2 separate regions of the Homo sapiens genome follow, and region 2 is linked to region 1. The links come from fine-mapping of genetic effects on gene expression. A gene starts in region 1. The other region holds a variant in brackets. All regions are shown on one strand. Distances are between the middles of the regions.

Region 1 (2,911 bases):
TCATGGGGTTGTGGTGAGGATTAAAGGAACTCATTCATATGAAACACTCTGCCTGATATACGGCAGGTGCTCAATAAACGCTAGCTCCTATTGGCATTACTATCATCACTGGCGCTAATGTATTCACTTATTGTAGTGAGGCAGAACGTCTTTGTGGTTACGAGTGTGACCAGGCTGACCCACTATTAAGAGGTGGAGGACAGGGAAGGCCGTACAGTGCTCCATCACAAGGAAAAGAGGATCAGCACGTTCTCTTCTGGGAAGGGAAAAAAAAAGAGAAGGAAATTGAAAGTACACGGCCGATCTTCCCCCAATTACAAAGCACTGGACTCACGGGAGGGTATGCGGGGGACTGTGCAAGCATACAGGGGTGTGGGGGAGGAAGGCCAATGAACAGATCCACTGCAAAGGGAGGGGTGATGAGGCTCATCGTCTGAGGGGAAGGGGAGCAGAAAACCTTACAGACTCCTGCACCACAGTGAGAGGAGAGAAAAGCCATCACACAGACTGATTCAAAGCAGAGAGGGAAAAGGCTATGGACTGAGCTACTGAAAATAGGGAGATGTAAAGCACTAAACTAACCCACTATTAAAAAGGAGAGAACCCCAAGCGCTAGAGCGACAGTCTACGAAAAAGAGGAGACAGGGCAATGGACTGATAGCTAAAGGGACGTGAATCCAAACATGAAGACTGATCCACTATAAAATGGTGGTGGTGGTGGTGGGGGGGGGGGGTGGTTTTGAAAAAAGCCATGGACTGATGCATTGGGGGACTGGAGGAGGCAGGAATACAAACTCAGGTAGACTCACTGTTAAAGAGGGATGCGGAGGAGTGCGGCGCCACGGATTGATTCGCTACGATGTACAGGAAGGGTGGAATAAATAAGGCCACGGACGGGTCTCCTGAAAGTTGAGGCTAGGAGAAATCCAAACACTCAGATACACCTACTATTAAGGGGGCTGAACACTGTCACAGGCTAGCTCCCTATAAGTGGGGGTGGGTGGGGGGCGGGTGGGGGTAGGGGTAGGGGGAAAGCCTATGGACGAGTCCACCCTAAGTTGGCGTGGGGAAAAACATAAGCACGCAGACCGATCCATTATACAACGGGAGGGGGAGGTTAGGCCACGGTCAGATCCACTATAAGGGACGAAGGGCTTGAGCAATGCCACACGCAGGTCCACCAGCCGTGGTGGTGGCGGCGGGGAGTCGAACACCAGCAGGCCACCGGCCAAGCCACATCCTCTGCGCGGGGGCGGGAAGGATACGTGGGGTCACGGACTGGGCCCTCCACCCTCCAGGCCCAGAGCTCACCTGTGTGTAGCGTGGCGGTGGCGTTGGCAATGTTGGCAGCTCCGGGGGGCGGGGGCTCCATACGCGGCCCCACCGCCCCCCAGGCCTGGGTTCCGAGGCGGCGGTGGAGGTGGTGGTGGCGGTGGCGGCGGCAGCACCTAGAAGCCGCCCCTGCGTTTCCCTACAGCTCACGTGGGCCCGAGGAGGAGGAGCCCAATGTCCCGCCGCTCGCTGATTGGCCAAAGCGCTATTAATCGGCCGCAAGGCCTCGAGGGGTTGGGGGACGGGCCCTTCCCTACAGAGCTGTGCCGTGATTGGCGTAAGGGGAAATGATGGAACGCTCACGGCCCCTGGAGTCCCGAGGAGGCGCGTTCGGCCTTCACGGTGCTCCACGCCGATTGGCTCAAGGACTGACGGACTGTGAGCAACTGAAAAGGCTCGGGGCCTGTGTCGGGGGGGCGGGGGTCTGCCTCACACTGATTGGCTTACATGGGATTGATGGAAGACAGCCCCCAAGGACGGGGGTGGGTGGCCCTGTTTTTCTCTGATTGGCGGACGAGGGACTTCTAGACCCCTGCCAAAACACCAAGGGGGCGGTGTCGCACGCCATGCTGCTCAGCGGAAGCAGGGCTTGTATAGAAATGGGCGTAGCAGCCGGCGGGAGTGGGTCGGACTGGGCTCCGCGTAGGCGGGCAGGGCAGCTCTACGGTTAGACAAGACCATAGAGCTGGGTAAAGACGAATTTAGAACACAGCGGAGGTAGGAGGGCAGGATGGCTGTCAGGCACACGAAAGAGCATTGAGTGGCAGAAACGAAATGCTTTCAGAGGGCAGGGTTGAACTGCGGCCAGAGTTAAAAAGGGGAGGAACCTGGCTCTGCATTGATTGGCGGTGGCTGGACTCAACCTAGAATAGGGGCCCGACTAGGGAGAGCGGGATCCAGGTCTGTGCCCATTGGAAGCTGGAACACTTACAAGCAGGGGCTAAGACAAGGTAGGGCTGAGTTAGGGTTTGGGTGTAATTTGGGGTACCTGGGGAATGATTGGGTGTGTGAAAGCGTAAACCTTAGGGCCCTTTGATTGTTGTGGGAATGAACAAACCTCCACCATGAATTGGCCCATTCTCTATGGCAATTCAAAGGGTGGCGTCTAGGAAAAGGAATGGAAGAAAGGGTGAGGTGGGGGGCCCAGGTTGCCAAGATGACAGAAGAGAGGGCAGTGCATAAGGTCAACTGGCAAATACTGCCAGGCAACAGGCTGGAGGCAGGACTGCTGGGGCATTTTGGAGGTTCCACAGAGAGACTGGATCTCTGGGTCTCTCAGTAACTTTGTGCCCTAGGAACAGGCCCCCGTGGCAACTAGCAGGGTTTATGGGGAAAAAGAAGGGCCATGTGACTCAAAGGCATTCAGGCTCTTTAATGTCTGAGGATGGGGGGAAGAAGTCAATGGTGAGGCTTCTCTGGGAAATTCTGCAGGCCTTGTAGTTCTCTAAGCCCCTGAAAAAGAGGACAGAAGAGATTGAACAAAGACTGGGTCTGGGTTACGCCCCCAGGCTTGCTCTGACCTCCCTCCCTTGACTCCAGTTTAGAGGGAAAGATGGTCCTTCCCTTCTTTCGCTCTCTT
Region 2 (2,911 bases), 82 kb after region 1:
GTATCTTTGAATATATCATAATTTATATAACCAATATGCTGTTAATAAATATTTATGAAAGTTGGTTTTGGTTTTAACTGTTATGAACATCGCCGTGGTAAAATTCCTACATTTAAATCTTTGTGCACATACATGATTATTTTCTACAGATATAGTTTTAGAAATTGTACTCTTGGGTCAGGGTGTAAGGACAGGTGTTAATAATAAATGGGCTGGGCGCTGTGCTCATGCCTGTAACCTCAGCACTTTGAGAGGCAGAGGTGGGTGGATCAGTTGAGGTCAGGAGTTGCAGACCAGCCTGGTCAACATGGTGAAACCATGTCTCTACTAAAAATGCAAAAATTAGCTGGGCTTGGCGGCACACACCTATAATCCCAGCTACTTGAGAGGCTGAGGCTGGAGAATCTCTGGACCCCGGGAGGCAGAGGTTGCAGTGAGCCCAGATCGCGCCACTGCACTCCAGCCTGGGCGACAGAGCAAGACTCTTGTCTCAATAAATAAATAAAAATACAAAAATTAGCCAGGCATGGTGGCACGCGCCTATAATCCCAGCTACTTCGGAGGCTGAGACACTAGAATCACTGGCACCAGGGAGGCGGAGGTTGCAGTGAGCTGAGATCGTGCCACTGCACGCCAGCCTGTGTGACAGAACGAGACTCTGTCTCAAAAATAAATAAAAATACAAAAATTAGCCGGGCATGGTGGCGCACACCTGTAATCCCAGCTACTCCAGAGGCTGAGGCATGAGAATTGCTGGAACCCGGGAGGTGGAGGTTGCAGTAAGCTGCGCCACTGCACTCCAGCCTGGGCGACAGAGCGAAACTGTGTCTCACATAATAATAATAATAATAATAATAATAATAATAATAATAATAATAATAAATGAATTGGGAGGGGACAATTGCACACTTAGTCCCAATGAGAAATCTGCCTTTTTCCAAATGCCACATGATCAAATCAGTCACACATATGCAGCTTGTGATCACAGAGGCATGGAGTTCTCTGGCTTTCCATGGGGTGCAGCCTCTTGTCCAGCGGAAGTGTGGAGATTTCCAGCCTGCTTAATCTGAGCAACACAACCTTGACTTCACAGACCTATGTCCCTACCCAAGAAAGTCAGGAAATAACCACGTTTCTCATGAGTTATCGTTAATTCATGTATTTGTTGCACCCGTTGCAGTTCAGCAGCTTTTGTGAGCTTTTAAGAATCCCTGTAGTAAAATGTACAAGTATAGCTCCATAAAAATTAGATCAGAGAAAATATAGAAAGAATGGATGAAGTCAGGACCAGAATTGATTTGGGCTGTAGGCATTTGGGCCCTAGGGTTCTGCAGAGTAAAATTAAACTGCCAGTTTCCTTCTGAGCTTCCTATCAGACATAGCTGGAAAGAAAATGCAGTTATTTGTAGGATTTACCTTGGCCTCAGGGAGAAAAATGACTACAAGGGTGAAGAAAACATTTTCCAGGGTAAAGATTTCCTGATAATT[G/A]AATGTAAACCATCTCCCGCCCCCCTTATTTTTGAGACAGAGTCCTGCTCTGTTGTCCAGGCTGGAGTGCAGTGGCTCGATCTCGGCTCACTGCAAACTCCGCCTCCCAGGCTCAAGCGATTCTCCAGCCTCAGCCTCCTGACTAGCCGGGATTACAGGCACGTGCCACCATGCCTGGCTAATTTTTGTATTATTTATTTATTTATTAGAGACAGAGTCTCGCTCTATCACCCAGGCTGCAGTGCAGTGGCACCATCTCAGCTCACTGCAAACTCTGCCTCCTGGGCTCAAGGGATTCTCCAGCCTCAGCCTCCCAAGTAGCTGGGATTACAGGCATGCACCACCACACCCAGCTAATTTTTGTATTTTTTTGTAGAGACAGGGTTTCACCATGTTGGCCAGGCTGGTCTCGAACTTCTGACCTCAAGTGATCCACTGGCCTTGGCCTCCCAAAGTGCTGGGATTACAGGCATGAGCCACTGTGCTCGGCTCCAAAACCCCTTTTTGATCTCATTATGGATTATAGGTGAGGTGACCTTATACTTTATCATCCAAATTCAGAAACTTTGGAAAGTGAAAGAGGTATCATTAATAATCATGCTGGAACAGCAGGTGTAAACTGGACAGGTGGTCAACCTAATGATAAATGCGCAATAGAGTTTGCCATGGCCATCTTCTGGAGCAGTGGTTCTTCCAGTGTGTTCCCTGGACCACCACCAACAGCACCTGAGATATTGTTAGAGATGCAAATTCTTGGACCCTATGCCAGACCTACGGAATATCTAACTTTTGGGTGTGAGGCTCAGCAGTCTGTGTGCTGACAAGCCCTCTGGGTGATTCTGATACACGCTCAATGTTGAGAACCACTGATTTAGAGCTGTCTTCCAAATAAGTCAAAGGCACAGGGCCAGTGCAGAACTCAGCCCATCGGGTTCTTCATGTGCACACCTCTCTAATTATCTTGTTTCATCTAGGTACAAACTATCCTACATTTTTATATTCCTCTGGAGCCTTTTGACACTTCTTATGCCTTAAATAGTTCAAAATTAAAGGAATATTGGATCATACAATATGTGTTTTCAGTCTGGACTTAAAACTCTGTGTGATGGCCCTGCTCGTGGTCGGTTCCTCAAAAAAAAAAAAAAGTCTCTATTTTTAACATGTTATCCTGAAGTACAAAATACAACGGTAACGTGGAATTTATTCTTTCAAGATACAAAAGTTAGTTTATATTTATTTCCTGTATATAGAATCCCTTAGTGGTGATCCATTAGTTCAAGTAAAAAATCCATGCTTTTCCCATGATTGTAGTCCAGCATTTGTCCTTAGTTTTTATTAATTAATTAATTAATTTATTTATTTATTATTACTTTTGCCTCACTCTGTCTCCCAGGCTGGAGTGCAGTGGCATGATCTGGGCTCA

Evidence for each region. PIP is the estimated chance that this variant, and not a neighbour inherited with it, causes the effect.
Region 2: its variant is the best candidate, but not a certain one, in a credible set for the expression of ELK1 in whole blood (TOPMed, PIP 0.50).

Annotation. Positions count from the first base shown.
Region 1 is chrX:47,649,112-47,652,022 of GRCh38, forward strand. ELK1 (ETS transcription factor ELK1) reads right to left here and starts at 1,452. Exons shown (of 7, transcript NM_001114123.3): 1 at 1,312-1,452; 2 at 810-915. UXT (ubiquitously expressed prefoldin like chaperone) reads right to left here. Exons shown (of 7, transcript NM_004182.4): 7 at 2,685-2,784. The coding sequence ends at 2,731. RefSeq lists a cis regulatory region at 915-1,895 and a silencer at 1,227-1,636.
Region 2 is chrX:47,731,264-47,734,174 of GRCh38, forward strand. It overlaps the pseudogene CXXC1P1. Among named protein-coding and RNA genes, the nearest start is that of UXT, 74 kb to the left of the region's middle. The variant G/A (reference allele first, on the strand shown) is at 1,489.